Homo sapiens: one gene and its partners. The protein of the gene in region 5 purifies or fractionates together with the protein of the main gene of each other region. This does not show direct contact. Each region holds a gene or a part of one and is shown on either strand. Other genes may lie near its edges.

Evidence for each region.
Region 1: the proteins of NTPCR (region 5) and WDR35 purify together in Homo sapiens (affinity purification with mass spectrometry; one large-scale study listed by BioGRID and IntAct). This does not show direct contact.
Region 2: the proteins of NTPCR (region 5) and WDR19 purify together in Homo sapiens (affinity purification with mass spectrometry; one large-scale study listed by BioGRID and IntAct). This does not show direct contact.
Region 3: the proteins of NTPCR (region 5) and PAX3 purify together in Homo sapiens (affinity purification with mass spectrometry; one large-scale study listed by BioGRID and IntAct). This does not show direct contact.
Region 4: the proteins of NTPCR (region 5) and POLD3 purify together in Homo sapiens (tandem affinity purification; one large-scale study listed by IntAct). This does not show direct contact.
Region 6: the proteins of NTPCR (region 5) and NBEAL2 purify together in Homo sapiens (tandem affinity purification; one large-scale study listed by IntAct). This does not show direct contact.

What each region holds. Positions count from the first base shown.
Region 1 is NC_000002.12:19,933,766-19,938,105, reverse strand, and holds part of WDR35 (WD repeat-containing protein 35), read left to right. Parts: intron 1-159; coding exon 160-363; intron 364-1,740; coding exon 1,741-1,887; intron 1,888-2,502; coding exon 2,503-2,635; intron 2,636-4,340. UniProt on the Homo sapiens protein: As a component of the IFT complex A (IFT-A), a complex required for retrograde ciliary transport and entry into cilia of G protein-coupled receptors (GPCRs), it is involved in ciliogenesis and ciliary protein trafficking.
Region 2 is NC_000004.12:39,188,478-39,193,187, forward strand, and holds part of WDR19 (WD repeat-containing protein 19), read left to right. Parts: intron 1-1,178; coding exon 1,179-1,304; intron 1,305-4,710. UniProt on the Homo sapiens protein: As component of the IFT complex A (IFT-A), a complex required for retrograde ciliary transport and entry into cilia of G protein-coupled receptors (GPCRs), it is involved in cilia function and/or assembly.
Region 3 is NC_000002.12:222,296,178-222,301,548, forward strand, and holds the start of PAX3 (paired box protein Pax-3), read right to left. Parts: upstream 2,822-5,371; 5' UTR 2,439-2,821; coding exon 2,354-2,438; intron 2,197-2,353; exon of another isoform or gene 1,970-2,196; intron 1,037-1,969; coding exon 801-1,036; intron 1-800. UniProt on the Homo sapiens protein: Transcription factor that may regulate cell proliferation, migration and apoptosis. Involved in neural development and myogenesis. Transcriptional activator of MITF, acting synergistically with SOX10.
Region 4 is NC_000011.10:74,626,634-74,631,343, forward strand, and holds part of POLD3 (DNA polymerase delta subunit 3), read left to right. Parts: intron 1-2,581; coding exon of another isoform or gene 2,582-2,583; coding exon 2,584-2,690; intron 2,691-4,710. UniProt on the Homo sapiens protein: Accessory component of both the DNA polymerase delta complex and the DNA polymerase zeta complex.
Region 5 is NC_000001.11:232,952,966-232,957,675, forward strand, and holds part of NTPCR (cancer-related nucleoside-triphosphatase), read left to right. Parts: intron 1-2,591; coding exon 2,592-2,754; intron 2,755-3,381; coding exon 3,382-3,478; coding exon of another isoform or gene 3,479-3,482; intron 3,483-4,710. UniProt on the Homo sapiens protein: Has nucleotide phosphatase activity towards ATP, GTP, CTP, TTP and UTP. Hydrolyzes nucleoside diphosphates with lower efficiency.
Region 6 is NC_000003.12:46,985,385-46,990,094, forward strand, and holds part of NBEAL2 (neurobeachin-like protein 2), read left to right. Parts: intron 1-2,605; exon of another isoform or gene 2,606-2,663; coding exon of another isoform or gene 2,664-2,693; intron 2,694-2,977; exon of another isoform or gene 2,978-3,061; intron 3,062-3,284; coding exon 3,285-3,373; intron 3,374-3,457; coding exon 3,458-3,586; intron 3,587-3,700; coding exon 3,701-3,782; intron 3,783-3,875; coding exon 3,876-3,997; intron 3,998-4,126; coding exon 4,127-4,209; intron 4,210-4,284; exon of another isoform or gene 4,285-4,710. UniProt on the Homo sapiens protein: Probably involved in thrombopoiesis. Plays a role in the development or secretion of alpha-granules, that contain several growth factors important for platelet biogenesis.

The DNA of each region.
Region 1 (4,340 bases), on a different chromosome or scaffold from region 5:
AAATAAGCAGAAAATTATTTGAAAAATGTTTGCATATGTTACTTTCCACCATGTTTCTCTAGAAATAATAGACATAAATGATAATTGAATTGTGATTCAAGACTAGTTTGTCAGTAATTTGCAATATGCACTTATGTTTTTGTTTCTTTTAAAATAAAGGCGCCTACTGGCTGAAGCAGCTCTTCAGAAACTGGATCTATACACTGCAGAGCAAGCATTTGTGCGCTGCAAAGATTACCAAGGCATTAAGTTTGTGAAGCGCTTGGGCAAACTACTGAGTGAGTCAATGAAACAGGCTGAAGTTGTTGGCTACTTCGGCAGGTTTGAAGAGGCTGAAAGAACGTATCTCGAGATGGACAGAAGGTAAGTTATGAAGGCGCAGGCATCCCTGAGTACTCTATCAGTTCATCATTGTATTTTTTACAAATGGAAACTATAAATACGTTAGGTGTATCATATGGTTCCTTTTAGAAATTAATTTTAAGTTTGGATTACAACCTAGATATTCTACATGCCTCTCATTCATTTGTGTTTCATAGTCTGGAGGCAGTTTTCTTCTCTGTTTTTACATCTAATAATGGCTGACTCTGGGAGGTTTTTTTTTCATTTGATGGGAAAAAATGATAGAACAACAGAGACTGGGATCTTTTATATTTAAGACATAGCTCATTATTCCAGTTCTTTCTTTCTTTGTTTGTTTAGGCCATTATTTAATTTTATGTTGTCAAGAGGCATAAAATAAAAATCAGAAGTCGTTAGGGATCGAGATTAGTTCTTTATATTTCGTTTTTGATTTATATAAAATAATGTATGAACTTCATAAATATTTCTTCTTTTGAATTAAAGAACTGTAAGGCCTGTCTCCCTGGCCAGGAATCAAACCCAGGCAGCTGCTATGAAAGCAGATAATCTTAGCCACTGAACCACAAGGCGGAGAGTCTGTCTGAACTTCATTTCAGCTGTTAAGATTGTATCTCATCTTCATTAATGTTATTTATACTCCCAGGAGATCTCTAATATGACTTAGGCTCTGAAAAGTCATATAAAACCACATGTGTTAACACTGTGTTTTGTTTTGAAATAAACCTGATCACATCTAAGAAATTGCTGAAAAGAAATGATTGTTATTTAAATCATTATTTTGCTAAATAAATTGAAAGTCCAGGAAAGTAAAGGCACAACATTCTTTTCCCTGTTCTGGTATCTTAGACCATTTGGGGTGCTATAACAAGATACCTGAGACTGGATAATTTATAAAGAACAGAAATATTTTTCTCACAGTTCTGGAGACTAGGAAGTCTAAGATCAAGGCGTCAACAAGTTTGGTGTCTGTTGAGGGCCCTGTCTCACTTTCAAGATGGTGCTTTGAATGTTATGCCTTTACATGGTGGAAAGTGAAAAGGGCAAAAGGGGCAAATTCTCTGAGGAGTCTTTTATGAGGGCATTAATCAATTCATAAGGGCAGACATAATGACTTCCCAGAAACCCCACCTCTTAATACTACCACAATGGAGATTAAGTTTTAACATGAATTTTGGAGGGGACACACATTCAAACCATAACCTCCAGGTGCTCCTCATTTCCTCTTAGCTAGTCAGGCTAAGTTCCTAAAGTGTTTGGAGAGTCACATTGTCCACTGCTGTGTAGCCTCAGCACCTAGAACTGTACCTAACACACAGCAGGCTCTTGGTAAATATTTGTCAAATAGATGAATGAATGAATGAATGCCTTTGTTTGTAGGGATCTTGCTATTGGCCTCCGGCTGAAATTGGGGGATTGGTTTAGAGTACTCCAGCTCCTGAAAACTGGATCTGGTGATGCAGATGACAGTCTCCTGGAACAAGCCAACAATGCCATTGGAGACTACTTTGCTGATCGACAAAAGTGGTATGTAACTTACCTGGAGCTCCTCAAGCATTCATGCAACACTTAGTAGCTGCCTGAGTACTTCTCTAGGAAGTAATCCTGGGGAAATGAAGATCATTTTCTTGAATTCTAAAATTCAGATAGCTCTAGATTCATCTTGGAAAGCCGGAGATCCTGTGAAGTTGTGAGATGAGCACTATAAAAATTTGTAGTGTATAAACACAAAACTTGTACTTAGCTCCATGCAGCTTTCTGTTTGAGCCTACAGTATATAATTCTAAGGTGTTTTATGTTTTATTTTTGAACAAAGTTTAATAAGTGTTTTTATTTGCTTTATTATATATTATTTTCAGAAATCATTGGCTTTTCTTTTCATTTTGATTAGTATGCTTATTTATGTCAGTGTTTGGGAGTAAAGCGGTGGTATTTCTTAAGAATAGTCAAGGAATGTTACAACTAGAATATGCTTTAGATTTTTTTCCCCATTTATATGTTTGAAAGTTATTCTGAAGCTGAAGATAATGAACAGTAATACTAGTACTGGGAATTATGATGAAGGAACATTTTGGTTGAAAGTGCTTATTTATCAGGAGATTCACATTAGTTTTAAAAGTTTTTCCTTTTTTCTTTCTGTAGGTTGAATGCTGTACAATATTATGTACAAGGACGGAACCAGGAACGCTTAGCTGAATGTTACTATATGTTAGAGGATTATGAAGGGTTAGAGAACCTTGCCATTTCACTTCCAGAAAACCACAAGTTACTTCCAGTAGGTATTGCAAATTTTAGTTTTTGGAATTGTTAGGTTACTTTATAAAATTTTATGTTATAGTCAGGAAATATCTCCCACAATAAAGAAAATTAAAAATCTATAATGTTACAGTTTCTTAGACATGGAATGATGCTTTTAATTATAAAGTAATATATAAATAATATAGAATGCTTGAAAATGGAGGAGGAAAAGTCAGTCACATTCTTACTACTTTAATATGATCACAGTCTTGTGTAGTCTGTTAAGATTTATAAAGTTACTTTTTAAATGTTAGCTGAATACATGAAATATTTACAGATGAAATGATATGTTGCTAGGGATTTGCTTCAAAATAATCTGAAATTGTTTGAAATTTGCTATAACTTAAGTTTAAAAAGATAGCTCAACTTTTATTATGTTATATTAACAATAAAGTATTTCAAGTTAAAAGAGAAATGGAAAGAGTTCTCTTGCTTTCAAATGTTCTTTTAGAGCCTCTTAATTAATTGTTGAATACTGTAAATAAGTTTGTATTTTATGTGTTTAATATGTGAATCACTGAGCCGTACAATACTTGTAGAGCTAGCAGCTCTCAACTGCAGAGTCTGGATGTATATCAGTTGTGAGTTCTGCTTCAAAAATTTTGCCTATTAGTTAATAGATAAGTATAGAATTACGGTAATTCAGTTTTCCCTATTGTGAATTTGAGCGGCTATCTCTGTAATAATGGTATTTTCACTCACCCTTATTTTCAATCCTATGGGTTTTCTTGAGTAGGAAAGAAACTGAAATTACTTAGAACCCTGGGTATAGGGAAGAGTGTATACTCCGTTAGTGTTGTCTGTTAGATGTGTCTGATGATGCCGATAAACATTTTGCTGTAGGGTATCCAGAATAGTAATATTCCTGAGTAAATGCTAAGTAATTATAACTATAATGATAATTAAATAACTAAAATAGTAAAAATTTTAGTATTATAAATTTTAAATAGAGTTATAGAAGAATTTTTAATAATATGGGAAGGTGTACATAATATTTAAGTAGGAAATACAGGATACAAAATTGTGTATTGTGTGATTGTGTACAACACAAACATATACATATATATTCAAAGGACAAAGATGTTAAGAAATTGCACCAGAGTATTGAGAGAGGTTTCTTATGAATGATAAGATTATGAGTAATTTCACTTTTTCATGTTTTGTAATTTTTTTTACAGATAGAATGTATTCCCTTATAATCAGAAAAATATAAGCATTGTTTTAAAAGTTGGATATAAAATATACTTTCATACTTCCAAACATATTGTAGAAGGGTTGGGGAGGGAAAACCTCTGGCTAATTAGATATTCTGAAAGAAAAAAAATGATGTTCTGAAAATGGCCAGTGCAGCTGAACAAGTAGGATTTTTTTTTGTGGTGGTGGTGGTGGTGGTGGTGGTGGTGGTGGTGGTGGTGGTGGTGGTTCTTCCTCGCTGCCACCACTTTCCAAGAGAGCTCTGTTTTGGGTCTAGCTTCCTGAACTGATTAATGGCAGACTTCTCTAGGACATTTCTTTATAGAGGTATTTGAGGGCTCTGTGAATGTGAGATTTCCCTTAAGTCTCTAGTTAATAATTAGCACTGAGTATACCACCAATTGATATAAAGGCTTTTTTCACCCACTGGTGGGGGATTTGTTTTGGAGCTTGACATTTCTGTATACTAGCTACTGAACTGAGATAAG
Region 2 (4,710 bases), on a different chromosome or scaffold from region 5:
ACTGAGGCAGAGGATCGCTTAAGCCCTGGAATTCGAGGTTATAGTGAACTATAATCATTTGAGCCCAGGAGTGTGAGGTTATAGCCAAGTATAATCGCACCACCGCACTCCAGCCTGGGCGGCAGAGCCAGACCTTGTCTCAAAAAAAAAAAAAAAAAGAAAAGAAAGAAAGAAAAGAAAATAACATTTCTTATTCACCACTTTAGAATTCTATCTTTCCCTTTTTTACAATCCTATATCTACCCAATCACTCAATTTATCTAGCTATAACTTTGCTGCTTTTCTTTTTTTGAAACAGGGTCTCTCTGTGTTTCCCAAGCTGGAGTACAGTGACACAAACATGGCTCACTGCAGCCTTTACCTCCCGGGCTCAAGTAATCTTCCCACTTCAGCCTCCTGAGTAGCTGAGTAGCATGTGCATGCCACCACGCCCAGCTCATTTTTTTTTCTTTTTTTTTTGGTAGAGATGGGACCTTGCCATGTTGCTCAGGCTGGAGTGCAGTGGCGCGATCTTGGCTTACTGCAACCTCTGCCTCCCAGGTTCAAGCGATTCTCCTGCCTCAGCCTCCCAAGTAGCTGGGATTACAGGCATGCACCACCATGCCCAGCTAATTTTTGTATTTTTTAGTAGAGACGGGGTTTCTCCATGTTGGTCAAGCTGGTCCCGAACTCCTGACCTCAGGTGATCCGCTTGCCTCGGCCTCCCAAAGTGCTGGGATTACAGGTGTAAGCCACTGCGCCCAGCCACTTTGTTTCTTATCAATACCTTCTTGTCCTCTCTGTCAATCTAAAATAATCTTTCAAAAGTTGATCATACAAATTATGTCTCGATTCCAGATGTGATTCATTTGTAAAGGTGCGTGGCGAGTTTGTTTTATCAAAAGGCAGGGTTCTTTATAGGACTGAAGAAAATCTGCTAACTTAAGTATGATTATATTTAATGTAGTATATGAAAATGGTATTAAAAGTAAAATTTTAAATTTTACCGTCCCCTCAACCACAGCAAAAAAATTGAAGTTAACATTACCCATGCAGTGAATAATGAGTTGTATTTCTCACTTTAGAGAGTTTATTATCTGTTCAAAATAGATTGAATAATCTTGTTATAGACAAAAATCACAAATAGTAATTTTACTTTAAAAAACTGTATAGTGGTATTTTGCTCTCTTTTTTAAAAGTAACTGTGTTGCCATGGATTGGGATAAAGATGGAGATGTCCTAGCAGTGATTGCTGAGAAATCTAGCTGCATTTATCTTTGGGATGCCAACACAAATAAGACCAGCCAGTTAGACAATGGCATGAGGTAAGATAACTTTTTAATTTTTTAAAGCTTCACTTAGAAACATGAATATTTGTAGGTTTGGTGCTAACAATTCTTTACTACTTTCATTTTAAAGATTCCTCAATGAGTTATTTTCATAGAAAAGGATTATTTTTATTATTGTTACCCAATTAGAATGAAATTGTTATAACTGTGAATTATAAATAGCTTCTTAAAAAGTTGCTTTCAGTGGAACAGACTAAGAAGTGCAGAGATGAGACAAAATATATATGGGAAAATCCAGAGATGGGCTTGACCATAGGCATGGCTAGATCTAGGAGTTATAATGGTGCAATCAAGACTTTTTCTCCATCTCTCAGCTCCTCTTTTCTCTATATTGACTTTATTCTAAATCAGATTCTCACCCACGACTACTGGTAGCTATCAGTATGTATCATTCTTCACAGCAAGTCATGCCAGAGAAAAGAGCATGTGCCTTGACATCACCAGAGCCCATTCAGTTCCTCAGCAGGTCTCTGAGTGGAGTAGGCAGGGCCATGGATTGGTACTCCCACCAAGTGAAAGGAAGAGCAAAGGGCAGGGCAGTTCCCAAATGGAAAAAAATCTTGGGCAGACAGAATAAATGACAGATATCTGCTAAAAGAGAAACCAGTTTCCAATATGGAAAAGAAAAACTTGTCAGCATTTCCAACTAAAACTTTGCCATTTTGACCTTGGACAAATTGCTTAACCCCTCTCCAAGCCTCAATTTCTTCATCTGTATGACATGGGTATAACATGCTTCATGGCTTCATGTACCCCTCATGTGGGGAGGAAGAGATCATATACACGCTATGAGACCAGACTATAAGTTTTCAAGTTATTTACTAAGGAATAACTGAACCCAGAGAAAGCAAGGCAGTCATGTAGCGCAGGATCAGATACAACCTAGTGAGTGTAGTGCCTTTGACCCTCCAAAGTGACCGTTGAGGCAAGTAGCTGCAGAAGATACTGTCTACCAATGTAAAGTCTTCCTGAGTCTAAGAACCTTCATTTCTTGCTCTGTCCTCTTACACTTTGGGTTTACATCACTTTTCAGAAAGATTTTATATACTCTCTGTGCTTCCATTCAAGGGAAAGTTTAATAAACTTCAAGTACTGGTTCTTGAGCCAAATTCAGCAACAGTAAGGCCATGTTCTCACTCAGAGCAAAGTGCATAATTAATCCCCTGGTGTTTCTAACTGGTCTATCTCTGCCTCCAGCTCTCTGTCTTCCCACAGTGTCTGTTTCTCCACATCATCTCAGGATTGTTGTGATGTTTAAATATATGTCATGGCCAGGCATAAAATTAAGACCCAAGTAAATGGTAGATGTTATCGTAATTGTCATTAAAATAAAATTAAGGTTGCTTTACTGTTGATGTTTATATTTAATGTCTAAAGGACTTTTGTATATACAAAAGCATACCCACTGTTTGTTCTTTATTCAAAGGTCAATCTGTTACACTAGCTAGTTATTAAACAAAACTTGGAATATCAATTTTTCTTAAGTATTTTTATTTAAGAAGGTCCTGTTGTACATGACCACCTTGCTTCCTCTGGGTTGTTATTCCTTAGTAAATAAATGCTTTTAAGCAATTTAGGTTTTATAAAATTTATCTGAAGTGAGTCTTTTGAGCACTTCAAACACCTGAAATAGTACCCAAAACCTATCCAAATGTAATTATCACAAAACTTACTGTGGTGCCACTTAACTAAAAATATATTAATTCAATGAGCTGAATTCATTTATTTTTGCTATGTATGCATTTATACTCTTTTAGAATTATAGCGGTATTTACTCTGCTCCTGCCTAGGCCTAACAGAAGTAGTCATTTAATTATGTAACTGGGATATAGCCATTTCTTTCCAGAGAAAACCCTATACATAACATCTGCTTCATCAACCAGTTCATTCTTGGATGGATCACAGAACATGGTTGCTTCTCCCAAGGCAATTTGGACCTGAGTACTAGGTATCCTACTCAGTGTCTTTTTAAATTGACCTTGAGTTGTCGTATTAGTAAAATTCTTTTAAGCCCATGCCTTATACATAGGTTGCAATTTTTTGTAACCTGTACATTTCCCTAGCATGATATATTCTTTAAATTTTGCTTGGCCAGAGATACATGTAATTGTTATATGTTGTCCTGATCCAATGGCATTATTGGAAATTTACATATGCTTTAGTATCATATTGTAATTTGCAAGGGTTTCTACGGGCCTTATATCCTAAGAGAATAGGGATGGAGTCTGTTCAGTTAGCTCTTCTTTTGAGAACATTTGATTACTTGATCTTCTTAGAACACATTATTTAACACTTTCTTTCTAGTTGGTTGTTGAGTAACTGTCAGTGCTGATAAACTATTGAATGGACTAATGTTATATTTATCTTATTATATATGATCACTGTTGCTGATCAGATCTTGTTCTTGTTATACAGTTTTCTCTGATACTATTTTTAGCTCATGCAAAATTATTTTTATTCATATTTTCTTTGAAGGAGTCTCCAAGACAGGATTAACTGTGTAAGAGATTTCTTACAGGAAATGCCTATGAGGGAACATAGAGAGGTTAGAAGAGATTGGAAGAGCTGTTAGACCTCAGTGCATGTCTGACCCTTATAAATGAGAGAGGGAAAGAAGTAAGGTTGGGAAGAAGTGTCTTAAATTGTAGCACAGTTGTTTTTTGTTTGTTTGTTTGTTTGTTTGGAACGGAGGCTCCCTCTTTTGCCCAGGCTGGAGTGCAGTGGCTTGATCTTGGCTCACTGCAACCTCTACCTCCCGGGTCAAAGCGATTCTCCTGCCTCAGCCTCCCAAGTAGCTCGGTGCCCACCACCACGCCCAGCTAAATTTTGTATTTTTAGTAGAGATGGGGTTCCACCATCTTGGCCAGGCTGGTCTCGAACTCCTGACCTCAGATGATCTGCCCACCTGAGCCTCCCAAAGTGCTAGGATTATAGGCGTGAGCCACCGTGCCCAGCCCATTAAATTGTAGCACAGTTCTAATTAAGAAAGTTCAGCTAGGTCTGTGGGGAGTCTTTGGGCAAAAGTTACCTGTCAAAGGAGTTCTGCCCAGGAATGGGCCCAGCAGTTATCCCTCCCTCACTCAGTCATTGTCTGGGAACAGCCCATGAGAAAGCACAGCCCAGCTCATTGAGGTGATGGATTCCAAAGCCTAGCAGCTGGGGCTCATGGGCAGTTACACTTTCTGCAAACGGAGGGAAATCTGAGAGGCACATTATTGCGGCTACAGCATTTATTTTAAAAAAGGAAAAAAAGATTAAAATGCGTATTTATCTTTTGTAAAATAGATACTTAATAGAAGAACCTAGCAGCCTGGTATGTTACTACTCCCTTACTTGCTAAATTTAATTTTTTTTCTTTTCTTTTTTTTTTTTTTGAGACAGA
Region 3 (5,371 bases), on a different chromosome or scaffold from region 5:
TTCTCTCTACCCCCAATATATATTTTTTAAAAAGAAGAAGAAGGTTCCAAAGATTCTTAGAAAGGCTGTGAAAGTGTTTCAGTAGGTGGGAAGGAAGAGGAGGGTGTTTGGAGGTCTTCGGTTTACCATAACCCTCTTGATTTTGCCCGGTGGCAACTAGAAGAAAAGACAGACCTTGTGTAATTCCCTCCCACTCAGCCCTAGCTGGTGTGACTCTTTCTTTTTAAAAACAGAACCAAAAATAATTTAAGGATAGCACCAAACTGCTTATTTTTTTTTAATGGAGTCATTGGCTTATTACAAAGAAAACTGATCACCCTAGTATTTGACTCATTGAAAACAATTTGCACTGGGGGAGACTGAGGGCGGGGTTTGGGAGACAAACCATTATAAAACCTAAAGAAGTTCCTTACATTCGTTTTGGAAAGGACGGTGCCATGGGTGGGAGCCGGGAAGACACTTAGGGAAGAAATCGGCAACAGGTGGGCACATAGAGCTTGCCTGCTTTAGGTGTTTATCCATTAAAATAATTTGATGAGGATTGCAAGGCTTATGGGCTTTAAAAAACAGATGTTATTTTTCCTTTGCAAAAAGGCAAGAGCTTTCCCTAAGTGTTCATCAAGAAGTGTCCAGGGCGCGTGCACACGTACACACACACACGCGCGCCTTTACGCACCTTCACAAACCTCAGAAATAACTCATTGGAGAGCCCCAGATGTCAGCCGTTACCCCCCGCCCGGTCTTCCCCAACACAGGGGACCACAGTCTGGGAGCCAGGAGGGCAAGGCCCGCCCGCTCACCTTGGGCTTGCTGCCGCCGATGGCACCAGGACGTATGGAGCCAGTCTCCTGGTACCTGCACAGGATCTTGGAGACGCAGCCGTGGGACACGCGCAGCTGGCGCGAGATGACGCAGGGCCGGATGCCGTGGTGGGCCATCTCCACGATCTTGTGGCGGATGTGGTTGGGCAGCGGCCTGCCGTTGATAAAAACACCGCCGAGCTGGTTGACGCGGCCCTGGCCGAGGGGAGTGGACACTGTGGGAAGGTGAAAAAGAGAAGCAAGGGAAAAGTCACTGGAGGAAAATAAAAAGCAAAGAACAGCAGCACGTAATTTCGCAGTCTTCTGTCCTATCCTCATGTTACAGCACCGACGCTGAAACTGCTCGACATCGGACTCCCAGACCCAGACCTCCTTTCAATCACATTTGTTCAAATTATTCAGCAATATAGCGCATGTAATCTTGTGTAAAGACAGCAAATGGGGCAAAATAATTCTCCCCAGAGAAAGCGTCTTCCCCTTCGGGCCCGGGGAGTGGCAACTTAGGAGACCCTGCAGCTGGTAGAGAGTCTAGCTTGCTCTAGAAACAGCCTCCTGGCGAAGAGAAGTTCACCCAGGAGCTGGCCTTGATGAACTCTGCTCCCACCGATCCCTGTCCAATTGGGATCTCTCCCTTTCTAAGGGACTTGGGCCAGCTGATAGCCCTTGGGGTTTCTAGCCAAAAGTGCAGCAGCCAAGGGTCAAAGAGGGTCCAGAAAGGAGGCCCAAGCAGCAGTGCCTGTGTCACCTGTTACATCTTGGGACAGAGACCACAGCAGCGGCAGGGCTGTTCCTGGGCCCCCAGCCCCCATTCTTGCTCTGGGTGTTACATTCTACTCTAGGCTGGGTGTGAAGGGAGTGGGTGGCGGGGGCGATGAGCATCTCTGCTGGGGCGCCCTAACCTGGAAAACCATTGAAAACGGCTCAGGCTTGCAAGACTTCCTGCCTCCCCGGGATTCCCAGAATCTTCAAGTGGACGGAAAGGCGATTCCTAAACAAGTTATAGAAACTTCTAGATGCTATTTGAGATACATAGAATTCTAATTTATTTAATTATTCTAAAAATTCCAATCACAATGGCGCGGCGTTAGCCACCACAACTTTGCAGGGCAAAAAAAAAAAAATACTTCCTGAACTAACATATGTTTCACAAGTGTGGGCGCAGCCGGGACAATTTCGAGACAACTTCGAGACAATTTCGAATGGACAAATTGCGGAGAAGTTGCTTCTGCCGCTCAGAAGCCGGTTCACCTCCTTCTCCACCGCGGCATTTCCAAAACAACAGGGACAAGTCTCCCCGGCTCGCCGCAGGCCTGACCGCCCAGCTCCGCCAGGATTTGCAGAGAGCAGCGCGCTCCATTTGCAGAAAGGAAATCGAGTAGGTCCTCGCCCCCGACTGGTGCTTCTTGGGGTGTGGGGTGCCCAGGGAATGGGCTTCCTGGAAGCACCAAAGGAGCCTGCGGAGCCTGGGGATGGGGTGAGGCAGCCGGTCCCAGGCCCTGGGATCCAGGCGGCGCGCTGAGGCCCTCCCTTACCTTCCAGCGGGAACCCGCTACGCGGGTAGTTCTGCCCCGGGCCCGGCCGCATCATCCTGGGCACAGCGCCGGCCAGCGTGGTCATCCTGGGGGCAGCTTCGCTCGGAAATTATATCCAGGTGAAGGCGAAACGGAAAGGCGAGTGCGGCGCGGATGACCCTCGGGAACTATCCGGAGCGTGGAGAGCCCCTCCCCAAAACGGCTGGAGAGAGAGGGAGGGACGCGGGGAGGGGGGCTGTCGGTTCCTAGTCCAGAGGCCGGAGCTGGAACCCGGGAAAGGGGAGGACGGGGAGGCCCCGGAGTCCAGGATCCCGAGCCCAGGGCGGAAAAGTTTGGTACGAGTCTGGGCAAATGTTCCAGCGACTGGGGTCCCTGAAAAGGGGGCTCAGAGAGCCACGGCGAGCCGGGGAGCCTGGTGAGGCTGGAGCGCGGCCTGCCTGAGTCTCCTCCTGTGGTGACACCGAGTGCGGGGATCCGGGCTCGGGAGCATTTATTAGTTCTTTTACCCAAAGCTTGGTCAGGAGCCCTGAGCTGCGATTGGCCGACGGGTAGACCGTCCCGGGTGGCGGAGACACGCGCTGATTGGGCAACAGCGACCACTTTCTCTTCCCATCTCTGGTGGTGCCGAGGCCTCTGCTGGCCCCGAGGGGGACCCGCGCTGCGCCCCTTGCCCAGGAGAGAAGGTTGGCCCGGTGGAAACTGAGAGAGACAGCCCCAGGGAGATGGCAGTTGCTGAGGGCGGAGAAGTTCCTGTCTCTCTGTCTCTGTCTCTCTGTCTGTGTCACTCTGTGTGTGTGTGTGTGTGTGTGTGTGTGTGTGTGTGTGTGTGTGTGTGTGTCTTTCTCTGATCACTCTTTCCTTGACTTTCTATTTCCCTCTCTGTCTCTTTCTGTGCCTCTGTGTGTGTGTCTCGCTCAGCCTCTATTCCTCTTGTGATTTCCTGTGTCTCTCTCTATGTCTCATTTTTTCTACCTGTAGGTCTCGCTCTCATTTCTCTTGGCTTACTGCCACTGGAGGGGGCACAATTCCAATAAGAAGGCATCTGGGGCCCCAGACATATTTAGCTTTCCTTCCTGTGGTCAGTGCCCCTTGGCCTAGGCTTGTTAAGGGGTCCTCCCGATGGGGCTCCTCCTGGGAGGAGTCCAGGGTGCGCTGATGTTCTTTTGTCTTCTCCGTCCGCAAGCGGGGCTAATGTGAAGCACAGGCAGCCGTCGCTAGGCCCAAGCACTCGTTAGTTGAAGGCTGGGGGTATGGGGGAGGGTGCAGAAAAAAACCTGGCTCCTCTTCTTGGTGTAAAAACCGCTCTGGCAAGCTGCGGTTCTAAATCTCTACATATAGATCCCCGATGCGTCGACAGAGATGTGTCTGTATGTTAAAGTTTTGCCCGGGTTCAGCGTTTGTTCTCAGGAATTTATTATGGCATTCAGACTAAACTGCTGGAAAAATAAAAGGAACGAAGTCTTGGCTAGGAGCTGAAGTGTCCCCAGCAGGATATGACGCCAGGAGTGTTGTAAAGACTGTCTGTCCTTAGAGAAGGTACCATTGTGCATAGCCTTTTATTTATAACTTGGTAAGTGCCAGCGAACTCGCCTCCTTTACACCCCCGAGTGCCAGCCCCGCGCTCTGCACTGCGCTTTATTCGCTCGAGCCTATTCAGGGACTGTCACTCCGGGGCCGCGAGGTATTCAGGGCCTTAATCAATCAAAAGGATGAGAATCGGGCAGGTTTTTCCCTTTGAAATAAAGGAAACAATGACTTCTGGGCTTCAAGTTCCCCCTTTTCCTTTTATGATTTTTGAATTTTTCCTGCCCCTGGAGGGAGTTCTCCACTCCTCTCTCTCTGTCCCCCTCCCCCACCTCCTTTGACAGTTTTGACGTGAACTCGGGCCCCCAACCCTACTTCCCCATTCCCTAATTAAGGCAAACTCAGAAGGCAAGATGTAGGGGGGTGTGGGGTATAGCCGCTCAGCAGTCCACAAGTTGGCCCTTTAAAAACCCACTCACCATTGGGGAAACCAGGCAAGCTTTCAGCCTGCCTGATGCCAGAAGGCTTGGTTGACCCTCAGAGCCACGGAGACAGGTCTCAGGAGACTCCCAGAAATGTCTGGACCCATGAAGGAGGCATGTGCCTTGTTTAACCTGGTTTTACATTAAATGATTCAATTTTTCAAGGGGAAAATTTTCTCATTTTCTTTTTAAGGCGTTGGGGCCACCAAAGCCTGTGTCCGTACGTTTTAAGCCACTTCTCAGCGATAGCATTTTGAGAGCTAGACTTTTTCCAAGTTTTCTTCTTCCCAAAGGTTAAGCAGAGTCGACAGAGCACTTTCTGGGGTCAGCGGTAATTGCTGTGTGAAGGAGGTACCAGAAGTGTAATTTCAAGAAGGCAAAAGTAGGCTCAACTCTCAGCTAAAATAAACTCTTGGACCCCGCGAGCAGTTAAAGAACATCTAGAGCTGAGTCTCATTTGTTTTTGAGCCGGAGGCTTGGTCTCCAAGCCCTCCCAGCGTCCACCCGTCTCTCTCCTGCCGGGAGTTTTCTCTCCTAAGAGCCGGCAGATGCTGGAGGGAAGCGCTTGCTGCAAGATTCCTTCTCCCGGTCCCGTAGATTGCAGAGTCCGCGGGACCGTTGAACGGAGGTACTGCCGGCTGAGCTGGGTCTTAAGTGCCCATGGGTTCATAAACTAGCTGTCACTTGCTATAAACATGTACAAATGGAGGCCACAAGGATGTGGGGGTGCTGGGGACCTAAAGCTCCGGAATCAGGAGGCGACTCATTTTCTCTCCTTTCCGGCCTCTTTCTTTTCTGCCGAGCGCTCTGAGATTCATATGTACCCAGATGATCAGCCCGGCCCTTCTCACCGGCCAGTGGCCAGAGGTCCCTGGACACCCGGAGAGGGGTGGGAGGGCACCCTTAGGCTCTGGACAGCTGGGCCACATCCAAAGACTTAATGAATCTAAATTTCTTGTGGCCTGTGTCCCCGAAGTCCGACCTGGGATGGCCAGGACAGCAAAGTTGGCTG
Region 4 (4,710 bases), on a different chromosome or scaffold from region 5:
ACACTAAGCATTTGTTGCCTGTGTTTATGAGGTCTACAGGTCAGTTACATTCTTTTCTGGTAATGTCTTTATCAAGTTGCTGTGTCAAAATTGTGCTAACTTCATAAGATTACTCATGCGCTGCATAACGATGTTTGGGTCAACAATGGGCTGCATATATGACAGTGGTCTCGTAAGATTATAATGGAGCTGAAAAATTCCCATTGCCTAGTGACATCATAGCTGTCATGACATGGTAGCGCAACACATTCCTCACGTGTTTGTGATGATGCTGGTATAAATATACCTACTGTGCTGCCAGTCATGTGAAAGTATATCATATATATTAATAGTTATATATACATAATACTTGATAATAAAAATGACTATGCTACTATAATTACTGCACTATACTTTTTATCATTTTAGAGGGTAGTCTTTCTACTTATAAAAAAAGTTGACTGTAAAATAGCCTCAGGCAGCCCTTAGGAGATATTTCAAAAGAAGGCATTGTTATCATAAGAGATGACAGCTTCATGTGTGTTACTGCCCCTGAAGAAGACCTTCCAGTGGGACAAAATGTGGAGGTGGAAGACAATGATCATTGATGATCCTGACCCTGTGTAGGCCGAGGCTAATGTGTGTTTGGGTCTTAGCTTTCAACAAAAAAAGTTTAAAAAGTAAATAAAAAATTTTTAAAATAGAAAAAGGCCTATAGAATAGGGATATAAAGAAGAAAATATTTTTGTACAGCTGTACAATTTTTTGTGTTTTAAGCTGTGTTATTACAAAAGAGCCAAAAAGTTATAAAATTGAAAATACAGTTAAAGTAAGCTGTTTATTATTGAAGAAAGAAAAACATTTTAAAATAAATTTAGTGTTGCCTGAGTATCCAGTGTTGATAAAGTCTACAGTAGTGTACAGTAACATCCTAGGGCCTTCACATTTCACTCACCGCTCACTCACTGACTCAGCCAGAGCAACTTTCAGTACTGAAAGCCCCATTCGTGGTAAGTGCCCTATACATGTGTACCATTTTTAATCTTTTTTATACAGTATTTTTACTGTATCTTTTCTCTTTTTAGATGTTTAAATACACAAATACCGTTGTGTTACAGTTGCCTACAGTATTGAGTACAGTAACAATGATGTACAGGTTTGTAGCCTAGGAGCATAGACTATACCATCTAGGTTTGTGTGAGTATACTCTGTGATGTTCACACAGTGAAGTCACCTAACAATGCATTTCTCAAAATATGTCCCTGTCATTAAGTGATCCATGACCGCAGTTGGGAGAAGTTTCCTCTGTTTTCTGAAGGAGTTTATATATACGTGTATATTTTTCAAATGTTTAATAAAATTTACCAGTGAATCCAGGGCTGGATTTTATTTGTGGGAAAGGTTTTTATTGTGAATTTGATTTAACTAGAGCTGTTCAAATTCTCTAGTTCTTCTTGGATCAGTTTTGACTGAGTTGTGTTTTTAAAACTCAGTCAAAATTTGATCTAAATTGTTGAGTTTATTGGCATAAACCCGTTCATTATATAACTTTATTCTTCGAGTTTGTAGAACCTGTACTCGATACAGATTTCTTTACTGTTTCATTCCTGATTGATAATTTATATTTTTCTGTTTTCAAAATGGGTTTTATAAAAGGCTTATTAATAAAATTAATCTCCCAAAAATAACAACTTTGGCTTTGTTAATTTTCTCTTATTTTTTATCTCACTGATTTCTGCTCTTATCTTTATTGTTTCCTTTTACTTTGGGTTTAATTGTTCTTTTTCTAGTTCAAGGTAGAAAGGAAAGTTGGTATTTAAAGTTATATAGGACATAAGGTACTTGATGGCAAAGATTATGTCTTGTATATATTTGTTTCTCTAACATTCAGTAGGCCTTTGATAAATTACTTGTTGGTTGCATGAGGAGTGTGATGGAGTATCCATTCATCCAGAGGAGCTAAATAATGTCATGATGGAGTCTAGGATTTTTTTTATTATTATTATGTCATTAGAATCACCTTAAAAGGATATCTCTGCCTTTGCTCATATTGTTCTTTCTCTTTAAAATATGTTTCCCCTTTCTACATGATGAACTTCTACTTAGCTTTTAAGTTTTCCAAATATGAATTATATTCCATAACATTTTATTTGTCCAGTTAAATCTACCACATTGCCTTATAGCCAGTGGTGTTTGCCAGAGCTTCTTGAAAACAGTATTTTCTTCTGTATTGTTGCATTCTCAATGGCTAGCAAAGAGCCTTGTATGTATGTAGTAGCTGCTTATTTAATGCTTGTTGGATAATTGAAAGGCCAATCAGGGAAGTAAGAAGGAATTTGGAAAGATTCTTGATAACCTGGTTGTAGCTTCCAGCAGTCTCTAGAGAACTCTAGAACTTTTTTATTCAAGTCACCTCATGAAGTGACTTAGTTGTGGTCAGTTAGCAGAGTATCCTTAACAAGAGTCCTTCTTGGACTATTTGGCCGTCCTTTTCTACCCTCTGGAATTAAGACCACGAGTTATAAAGCAAAACCCATAAGAGCATGTGAATACTTACATTTTTGTTCTGTGTAACACGCTTAATTTATTTCTGGATGGCAACAGGGGGAAGCGAGTAGCATTATCTGATGATGAGACAAAGGAAACTGAAAACATGAGGAAAAAGAGGAGAAGAATCAAACTTCCTGAATCTGATAGCAGTGAAGATGAAGGTGGGCATTACCATTCATTTTGGGTTAGGGGGATCAATTTTACTTTCAATGTTCAAGGAGCTAAAAAAGTAATGGATTAAGGATCACAATGAGAGTAGTAATTCTAGCATTAAGAGACACCATAGCACCTCTTTCTGTTTGAAATCTGCATTAGCCTTTTGACTAGAACCATGATCTTTTGGAAATTTGTCAAAATAACACAGAAGGAAAGAGGATAAGAATTATTATTATACATATTATCTAAGACTTTTTCTTTTCTTTTCTTTTTTTTTTTTACTTTTAAGGGGAGGATATTCCTTTAGCTACCTTCATGTGAATCTTTTAAAAATTGTGACGTTCTAGGCAGCCAGGGTATTACTGGTGGTGGTCCACACAGGTAAAACTAGGGTTAACTGGAACAACCTACAGTGTCATTGTTAGAAGGGAATGACACTGTGGACCCTTCTAGTTTTAGGCTGTGGGCAATGTTGTAAGATAAGCAAACCTCATAAGGGCAAGAGTTTTACCGGGAACATTAATATGCTTTTAAAAAAATATCAAGTATTTTGAAGAGCCAAGATCTTGCCCCAAATTGTATAAAGTATATAGAAAAAGAAGGAGGCTAAAAAGAAAGTTAAATGGGTTGAACTGATATGCTGGACGACTCTACCTTGAAAAGCCCACTTTGAGACACAGTGGTGAAAAGTTTGAACTGCTCTAATCAATTGTCCATGAATTCATGGCATAATGGGTATAAAACATTTTAAGTAATGAGGGGAAATCTAGTCCAAAGGATTTCAGCATCACATAAAGATACAGAGACAAACACGAACAGATACTAAAAGGGAGAGTAAAGAAGAATAATGAATGCAAAAAAGGAACCTACTGAGCTATCAAAGGACAAACTTGTAAGATTCTGAAACTTGTAAGATTCTGCTTTTTCCAGAAACTACTCTAAGAGGAATTGAAAATGGTAAGAGAGGCTTCCGAAAAAAGGATATTAGCTCAACTATACAAGTGAGTGAAAAAAAAACAAATTATATATACAGTTGACAGTAATGCAAAAGAAATGAACAGACCCAAGAAATAGTAGCAGGAAGCTGAATCTGTGATAAAGGTGTAGCATCTTTGACACTTCTGTGGATTTAGATTCTACCATTCATGCTATGTGTTTAGAATTACAGCCTGTGATATCCTGTGAGAGGTACAATGTCCTTCCGTGGGTTTTAGTGGCTCTTTAGAATGGGTAGGAGTAAGACACGTGAGCATCCCAGAGAGGCAAATGCTGTATTTTCATTCCATTGTCATTTATCAAAATGCTTTGGCCAAGGCTGCTGAAAGGAACAACTCCATGTAGACACATGGGAAAATAATTAGGAAGTAAATGTAGGAATAGGTGCTAATTGGAACAGTCTTCCCTATTTCCAATCAGTAAAAGACCTTGGGAAGATTTTGGAAAGGTCTTTGAAGCTATCAACTAGATACTCTAGTATTAGTAAAGGAGTCAGTTCTAAGTTAAGGAATGACTATGGTTGGTTGAGCACTCATTATATCCTTCTGAAATATTCCCTATAGTTCTGATCTGTAGCCTACAAAAATAATACTGTTGGGTGATTAGAAATGTGAGTGGGGTTATTTAGTTTTGAAAGGAATGTGAAGAAATGCAATAGAGGTACACAGCCTATAATAACAGATGATATAGAGCAGAAGCTCTTAGATTTTTTTCCTCTGGCAAAGATAATTTTTGGCATCTGACTAAATTTATAAACCTCTGACATTTTATTCTTAAATTTCATCTTTGTATCAAAGCCAGTGGGATTTTATTTTCAACCTTTACACAGTCTTTAACTTATTATTGCTTTATTTCTGTTACACTGAATATGTCATATTAGTTCAATATGCTGTCTTCAGCCAGAAGTTAGAAAAGGAACAGCAGGAGTAGAGAAAATACAAGAACTTTGGAGTCAGGCAGACCTGGGTTTAAATTTTACCTTGACCACTTATTGTGTGACTTTAAGCAGATTAGTTAACTTGTTTAATT
Region 5 (4,710 bases):
GTGCCCTGGGATTAGCCTTCAACCTGTGATTGGTGAAAGTTAGTTGATAAATTCCCTACTTTCTCACTCCTCAGACAGGATAACTGAGCCACTTGCCCTGACTTGTCCCTTAGGATTCCCCAGGGGGTTGAAGCTCCAGCTGCCCCCAGTGGAACTTGCTTGACAGTGCACCTCATGCTGGTGTCCTTCCCTTCCCTTTCTGAATTTCTTCCCTGCCAGTCCATCATGTTGTCACTGCCCAGGTTAAACTACCTGCACTTGAATCTTTATCTGAGGATCTGCTTAGGGGAGAACCAGAACCAAAATAATTCCAGAGCTTTCTGATCTGTTTGTGCCTGGTATACAGCTATCATCTCGAGGTCTCCTGAAGCAGAGGTCATTTCTTATCCAGACAGCATTGGGGTAGCAGCTTAACTAATGAAGAAAAAATTAACTGAAAGAAGATTCCTAGAGCTGAAGAAGCCAAAAGGGACTTTGCCCAAATGCTTCCTATTTATTGCTCTACTATGTTCTACACAACATACAGTCCCCACAGTATACCCTTTGTGAACAGGAATAGTTACCGTTGCTCCATTTTATCTTTTTCAAAATATAAACGGCAATTTTTGTTAGGATAAGAGTAAGACCCATTCAGTATAAGAATTAAAAAAAACAAGAAAAGTTTAAGGAAGAAAGTGACAATCACAGGGAATTTGAACATCAGAAATCAACATTGTAAATCTTTGTTCTGTATTCTTCTTGACATTTTTTTTTTCTGTAGACACGTACTTGACCATTCTTTAAAAAAAACATAATGGAATGGTTTCTGCTATTAACCTGCTTTTTCCATATATTATTTTCATACATTGTGGTCTATTTTCCATGCTAATAAATACATATAAGCAGTATATTTTTTAATGGTTGCATGGTATTTCTGTGTATTTATGTGCTATTATATACATGGTGCCATGAGTTAACATTCCCTTACAATCAACATTTAGGTTGTTTTCAGTGTTTTGCTATTATAAAGAATGTTGCAGTGAATGTCCTCTTTCACACATTTGTATTGTTGATGTTTCCTGAGGATGAATTCCTAGTCATGAACTACAGGGTGCTGTGGCAGGCGCATTGAAATTGCCCTTCAGAAAAGAAGTAGCAGCTTACACATTCGGCAATGCCATTACTTGCATGAAACAGATTCTTTAGTGACTTTCCTAAAGCAGTTGTTACTGATGGCCAGGGCTGGATTAGAATGTCATCATTTTATGTTCTACACAGTTCTACCAGCTGCATGCTCACTGTGGCTTACTGTAGCCAGAATCCTGTTGTGTTGCTGTTCATGTTCCAGAAAGCCAGGTGCCATTATTTTAATGTGAAGTGTGAAGATAGATACATTAAATAAGAATAATGGATCATATTTTATGTCAAGGAGGCTTAAAAGAGTGGGTAGTCTTAGAAATAGCATGATTTGCAACTCTGTAGTATCTCAAAATAGCTCACTTGCAGACATGCTAGGAGTTTTCTCTCTCTTTCCATTGTTGGGTAGTCATGATGCCACTTACTTAAATCCATATTGGGAACAAGGCTCATATTTTAAAAAGTCATGGTGACAGGTAAAGTCCCCTGTTGAAAGGTATGGACCTTATGAGGGGTATAGCCTTGGGTAAAATACCTAACCACCATGTACCTCAGTTTCTCCATCTGTAAAATATGCATAAGGATGGTAATTGCCTCAGAGGATGGTTGTGAGGACTTAACCAAGAAAATGCTTCCAAAGTGTGCTAGAACAGTGTCTGGCTCCATGACGTCAGTGATGAGTATTACTATATTAGGTAGCACCTGTTGGTGCTTACAAACCAGTGAGTTCATCAGAGTAGTCAGCTGACCAGGCTGGATGGACAGGAAGGATCAAGGTGGGGAGGCTGAGGGGGCAGAGGTACATAGGTTCAAACTGGGGAAGGTGTGGGGGATAAAGGTGAAGAAATGCTTAGAGACCCTGGAGAAGATGATGTTGGAAGGAGTTGCTAACCTGATAGGCTTGCTGTTATGAAAAAGTTTGAAAGTGACCATTAACAGGGATGCTAATGATATTTAAGAGACACATTTTCAGGAGTTACAACAATGTAAGTCAAAGGAGGAACAAAGTGATTTTCCCACTGTTAAGTGTAGGTCCGTTTGTAATCTCTTGAAAGCTGAAATCTTAAATTCCCAGCCCCTGACTCAAGTGTGACCAGTGTTACTTCCTGGGCAGAAAAATGGGAACTGTAAACCATTTCACAGGATGCAAATGGCATGGGAGAATATCATCAGGAACCTCTCAGTTGATTCTGGGATTGTGTACGTGACAAAATTAACAATGTTTCACAATTTAAAAATAAACCTCAAGATATCATTCGTGTTTTTATTATGCTTGTTTCTACTTGAAATTAAGCATTTTTAGCACCTGGAGCAATCAAAATTAAATTGAAGTTCATATTCATAAATCCATTTACAGCCCATTTCTCTACCCACCATAATTGCTGCCTCAGAGTCCACAAGTGCTGTGTGTGCTCTAGTAAGGGAATGTTTCCTAATGGGCTTTTCTTCTTTTTTTTTTTTTTTTTTTATTTTAGGAGTTGGAAAAACAACATTGATCCATAAAGCCAGTGAGGTTTTAAAATCCTCTGGTGTGCCTGTTGATGGATTTTATACCGAAGAAGTCAGACAGGGAGGGAGAAGAATAGGATTCGATGTCGTCACGTTGTCCGGCACCCGGGGGCCTTTATCGAGAGTTGGGTACTGATATTTCATTTCTGTGGTGTTCTATTATCTAAGCTCCCCTTCCATCTGTGCTTTGGGAGCTTTTCAACAAGAGCTAAATTCACCAAAAGCAGATACTCTGTTGGGTCCTTGGATGCCCATCTGCTTTCCCTTTAGGTTGAGAGTGTCTCCCTGGGCACAGGGTTGAGCCAAATGTTGTCATCTATCCTCAAGAATCTTAGGCCTTTAGGGATTTCTCAGAGAAAGAAAACAGAATGAAACCATCACATGAAAAAAGTATAAGAAAGTGATATTTTACTTAAAACTTGTTCACCAAGTCATAAACTCCTCTCACTTTATAATTCTTAGTCCTGTTTCTGGTGCCACTTTTCAAAGACTGTTGATGCAGTAGCTGCTTGGACCTTAAGAGATAGCCCTGCCATAACTGCAAGGCCCATTGTTGGAGGTGTGGACACTTTGAACAGGGTAGCTCTGTTCAAAGCAGAGAAAACCTGATCAGCTTTACAGACCACCGCATTTTGTGTTGGTCATTTTTAAGGATGATTTAGCATATGTGGAATGCCAGAGGCTCAGTGGAGCAGCTAAAAACCAGAAATCAATACAGGAGTTTTTCAACAAAGAACATAATGTCTTTTCCTTCAGGTTAGAGCCTCCACCTGGAAAACGTGAATGCCGAGTTGGGCAGTATGTGGTCGACCTGACTTCTTTTGAGCAGTTGGCACTACCCGTCTTGAGGAATGTGAGTACGTGATTTCTGCTTTTTGAACCCATCTGCTCTTAGTGTATTGTGGGAATTGCTAGCCATGGAAACAGAATGCCTTTTGCTCTTAAAGGCCCCAGTTTTGCATTTTACAATTGAAAAGATTGAGTCTTAATAAGGATAAACAACATAATTTGCTATCACTCTGAGCTACAGATAAATTCCTATAAATTCAGTACATATAAATATTTTATTTTGGAAAGGCTCTTGATGCCCAGGTACCAACATTCCCAAAGATAAGTCTTTCCTCTGTCTTCTCACAGTCATGTCTTAACCTGGTTTCACAGCACAACAAACATTTAGGAAGAGAAAATGTCATTATATGAACATAATAGCCAGTTGTTATTGAATGCCTACCAAGTACTGTAAGCAGTTAACGTATTATATTATTATATTACCTTTTTTAAAAAAGAAAAAAACTTTATTGACATCTTACGGCTTCTTTCTTTCTACTTTGAATGCCTTTTATTTCATTTGCTTGCCTAATTACCCTGGCTAGAACCTCCAGTCCAACATTGAATAAAAGTGGTGAGAGTAGACATCCTTATCTTATTCCTAATCTTAGAAAGAAAGTATTTAGTCTTTCACCATTATGTATGATGTTAACTGTGTCTTATTTGTATAGAGTTTACTCAGGCGTATTTTGTTGAGGATTTCTGCATCTTTATTCACAAAAGATATGGTCTGTAGCTTTCTTTTCTTGGGATATTGTTGTTTAGTTTTGGTATCAGGTTAATACTGGTCTAATAGAGTTAGGAAGTGTTTCCTTCTTTTCTAATTTTTGGAAGAGTTTGTGAATGATTCGTATTAATTTTTCTTTGAATAATTGATAGAATTCACTAGAGAAGCCATGTGGGCTAGGTTTTTCTTGGTGAGAAGCTTTTAAATTACCAATTAAATCTCTCCTTATAGGTCTGTTGATTTTGTATTTTTTTGTTGAATCAGTTGTGGTAATTTGTACCTTTTAGTAATTTGTCCATTTCATCTGAAGTATCTAAGTTATTGGCATATAGTTGTTCATAGATTCACCCATAATGCTTTTTATTTTGTAAGATTGGTGATATTGTCACTTCTTTCTTTATTTTAGTTATTTAAATCTTCTCTTTTTTCCTTGGTCAGTCTAAAAGTTTGTCAATTTAGATGATCTTTTCAAAGAACCAGCTTTTGTTTTATTGATTATGTAGTTTTATGTATCTATTTATCAGATATTT
Region 6 (4,710 bases), on a different chromosome or scaffold from region 5:
ATCCCTGTCAGCTTGGCAAACAAGGTGTACTCCCTGTACTCCCCACCAATGTCACAACCACCAGCCCTCAGCCCTCCAGGTTACTTCAGAATTCCAGAGGAGTGGCAGTTCCATGCCCACCCAGGGACTGTTTGAGCCTAAGCAGCCCTCGGGAGCCCCTCACCCCCAGCACTCTCAAGTGCCCTCACAGCTAGTTGGGCATAAGTTGGGGTCTCTGTGGTGGTGCACATGAGACCCCCTCTTCCCAGGGACACCGGCCTTCCACATTCCCACAACCTTCTCCCCTGCTGCAGGACCTGGGCATCACTTACCTATGGACCCTGGAGAGGGCTTGGCAGGTGTGGCTGCTCCCGACCTGCCTTCAGTGGGGGACAGGGTTGGGGCCCTGACCCAGTTAGGTTGGGGCAAGGGGCTGGACTGTCCCTGACCCGTGTTCCTGCTCAGAGCTGGCACAACCGACCAAGGCAGAAGCTCTGAGAGGGGCATGGGAAGCCTGAGCATCATGGCCACTCCTCCCAGGCCCTGGACCCTCACATGCAGCACTGCCACCATGCTCTCGTCCCCTGCCATTCTCTGCCCTCTGACCCTGGCTCCCTGAGGGACTCCCGTACCCCGACACATTGCAGTCTCAAGCCATGGGGCCTAGGTCAGAGTTGGCCTGAGGTCTTCCAGGGAGAAACAGTGAGACCCAGGGAGGCAGGACAGGCAGCCACCCCACCCCTGCCTAATACTGTGCTTTGGAGACCTCGTCATCCCCTTTCAGAGCCCCTGAAGGCTGTCTTGATTGTCCCAGCCCTGAACCCAGCTCAGCCCAATCTGCTGAAAGTTTACAGGACTGGACAGGCCAAGGGTGTGGTTCTAGGGACAGAAAGTACTATCTACATACTCTAGGAGTATGTAGAGATTGAGGGACCCACCCCTGTGCTGGGAAGGCTGATCAAGGTGATGGCCACCAGGAGGGTGGGAGGTTCCTGCTCAAGTACCAAAAGCCCAAGTCACACAAGGCAGTGGGGCATAGGGTGGGAAAAGGCCTGGATAGGAGGATGTGAACCACAGAGGGGGAGAGGTGGAAGCTGGAGAAGCAGGTTCTGGTTGGACCAGCAGCCTGGAATGCTGCTCAGCAGTTGAGCCTTTATGGGGAGGGGTTAGACACGGTCAAATTTGGGCTTTCAGGTGCTCAGTAGAGCTGCAGCTGGCAGGAAGACTCACATTTTGAGTGACTAGCTTGACTGAGGGGCAGAAGAGAGGAAGACAGTATTGGGACATTTTTGAAGGCAGCTAGGGGTCTCTGTGGGGCCACTGAGGCAAGGATCGGGGCCCGCATGGTCCTCATGGGCTGGCTTGCTAGCAATCATGAGTGGTCCTGGCCTAGAACTAAGGTCTGGCTTTTAGCATCCTCAAAGGTACACTGAAGACAAAGTAGTAGATAAGGCATCCCCTGTGGGGCCTCCTGTTTCCCCATCTGCAATGGGAGAGGTTCAGAAGAAATGGTCCAGGGCCCCTGGCCACCTCTGCTGTCTCAGGATCTGGGTATTTTGGGCTCCTTGCTGATTGTTCGGGAGGAGGCTGCCAGCAGGAGAGGGTGGAGAGGTCAATAAATGTAACTGACAGACAAAATGTCATGGTTGTGTGGGTCTGCACCATGGTGGCCCTGGCACCTCTCTGAGTTGTCTGGGCTTCAGATCTGCACTAAACTGTACCAGGGAGTTCCCCAATCACAGGGTGGACGGCTGCTCTGCCTAGGTTTTTTGGGGATCTGGCTCAGGTCTGCTGCAGTCAGGCCTCTTGCCCTGGGGCCATTCAGGCCTTGCCCGTGGTCTGGGCCCATAGGCTGCAAAAATTAGCCATCCATCCAAAGATAGTTCTGGAGGTCCTTGGGTATGAGGCCCATGGCCCCTGGGGAGCAGCCTGAGGCCTGCTGAGTGCTGACTGTGATGTGTCCCTTGCCTCTTCATCCTTTTCCACTCTAGCTCCCCCTGTCCACCTCTCTGACTCTAGGAAAGAAGGCTGCCTTTTGGACTCAGCTGGTTAGGAGCTCCATATGGGGCCAGCCTGGAGGAGCTCCTGTATAAGCCACAACCCACCCCTGGCCCCTGGGAGGGGCTTAGAGATTAGAGCAGATACGGGCTAGGCTAGGATTTATCAGCTGTGTTCCTGAGCGAAGAGAACTGCAGAGTTCAGATGAGGTGGCCAGGACATGGCGGGCGGCGGGGCGGGACAAAGGTATGGCTGAGTCTTCTACATCGACCCCTGTGGCCTGAGGCCTTGCGCGCAGGTCAGGGAGCTGTGGGTGCCTTAAGTGAAGGGTACTGCAGCAGCAGGATCAGAACCCTCACCTGGATAAGAGCTCTTCCAGGCGCCAACCTCATGCTTGTAAAACTAGTCTTGGCCCACAAGCCCCACCCAGGACAGGTGACTCCACCCCTCTGTAACAGGTCCCACCCTCTGTGCAGGCCAGGTCGCTTGCAGCCTCTCTCACTGGGGCCCAGGGTGCCCCGGCCCCCCCACATCCCTGCGGTCTGCCGGGAGGAAGCGGTCCCCCTCCCCCACCGTGACTCTGCGCTTCCTGCCCCAGCCCCGGGGCGGGAGGAGACATTTCCCGTTCACACCAAAGTTTTCCTGGCAGCGCCTAGACCTGGGCTTAGCCACTGCCCCTCTTGCCCATGGAACCAGCTCTGGGGCCTGGGGTCCAGGTAACCAGCAAGGGTGGGTGGAGGTTCCCGGGGCAAGGCAGGGCCGCACATGAGGATGTGCGCATGTCTGGGTCTGCCTGTCTAATGGTACACGTGTGTCCTGGGATCCACAGTTAAAGAAGGCTACTGAAGGTGGTGGCTGCTGGGCTGGGTGAAGATGGCAGATGAGGACCCAGCCCAAGGCTCTTGGTAGGGGGTGGCTGCTGTGTGGGACACCTTCTCCAGCCCTAGCACCAGTGTGGGCCACAGCCACACCCCACTTACGCCCCTCCCCTGGCTGTGTCAGACCTGCCTAGGACTGCAGGCATTAGGGAGGTGGGAGCAGAAACTGGGAGGCTGAGAGAAGCAGTGGGGTGCCTGGAAAAGTGGTCAGTATGTACCTAACTCTCTGATGCTGACCTTCCAATGTCCTGCCCTCCCTCCCCCGTCCCCCACTCCCCTTCTCCACACCCTCCACTCTGCCTTTAACCCCTTGTCCATGCCCTCTGTCCACCTCCATTCATTCTTCGCCTCTGTCTACATCCCCTTGTCCCTGCCCTGTTTACTGCATCCCTCCTGCCCCCCACCACTGTTCCCCTGTTCTGCCTACAGAAGGACCTGGGTTACCTGCAGCAGTGGCTGAAGGCCTTTGTAGGTGCCTTCAAGAAGAGCATCTCACTGTCCTCTCTGGAGCCACGAAGGTGAGGCTGGATCTGCACTGAGGGCAGGGACAGAGCAGGGAGATTGAGGGGTCCTCAGCACCCGTGTCTCCCCTTTCCTTGCAGGCCAGAGGAGGCAGGTGCAGAGGTCCCGCTGCTACCACTGGATGAGCTGCATGTGCTGGCCGAACAGCTGCACCAGGCTGACCTGGAGCAAGCCCTCCTGCTGCTCAAGCTCTTCATCATTCTCTGCAGGTGTCTCTGTTGTCCACTCTACAAGCAGGGGCCTAGAACTGTGGGCCAGAGGGAGAGGGGACAAGGAGGGGCATGGTGTATTATTGTGACCTCTCTCATCATTGACTCCCCCAGGAACCTGGAGAACATAGAGGCAGGCCGGGGCCAAGTGCTAGTGCCCCGAGTGCTGGCACTGTTGACCAAGTTGGTGGCGGAGGTGAAGTGGCCTCTACCTTGGGGGGCAGAGGGTGTATGCAGGGAGGCAGGCGGTAGCCATGGCGGGGCTAACCCTCTCTCCCCACACCTACAGCTGAAAGGATGCCCACCACCCCAGGGCCGAGGCACGCAGTTGGAGAATGTGGCCCTACATGCTCTGCTTCTCTGCGAGGGCCTCTTTGACCCTTACCAAACCTGGCGGCGCCAGCGCAGTGGGTGAGACCCAGCCCACAGGAAGGGAACCCAGAGGAGGGTGGGGAGAGGATGGCCGCGCTGGGCCCAAGGAGGGGTGACGGCCAGGAGTGGTGAGAGCCGGGCTGATGTACTTGGCCTCACTGCCCCCAGGGAAGTCATCAGCTCCAAGGAGAAGAGCAAATACAAGTTCCCTCCTGCTGCTTTGCCCCAGGAATTCAGCGCCTTCTTCCAAGGTCAGGCCCCGCCCCTGCCCCCACTTGGCTCCACCCCCAAACCTAGGCCCCTTCCTGTCGTTCCTTGATCCTGCCATACACAGGAACCACTTGGTGGTGGCTGCATGCAGGACTGGGAGAACCAAAGACCAAGCAAGAGTTTAGGGACAGAGACAAGAGAAGACATCTTGGGCTGGAGCGAGGGCCTCCCATCAGGTGGAGGGGTGGGGTCAACCTGCCTACCCAGATTTCTCATCCTCTTTCCCCGCCATCTCCTGGATCCTTCTAGCCACTTGTACCCTACTGTGATCTTAAAACTCTCTGGTCCAATCCCTTTGTCCCCATAGCCTCCACGCATCTCCACCCATCCCGGAGACACAGGAGGTATCTCCACCTCCTGTTCCCTGGCTGCTGGAGGATCTGGTGCCCAGGACAGCTGTGGCTGCCTGTTCACAGGTGGTCCTGTGAACCTGTTCTCCCTGGTGACCCTCCACCCCTGGGTCCCCTCTCTCCTCTCATTGG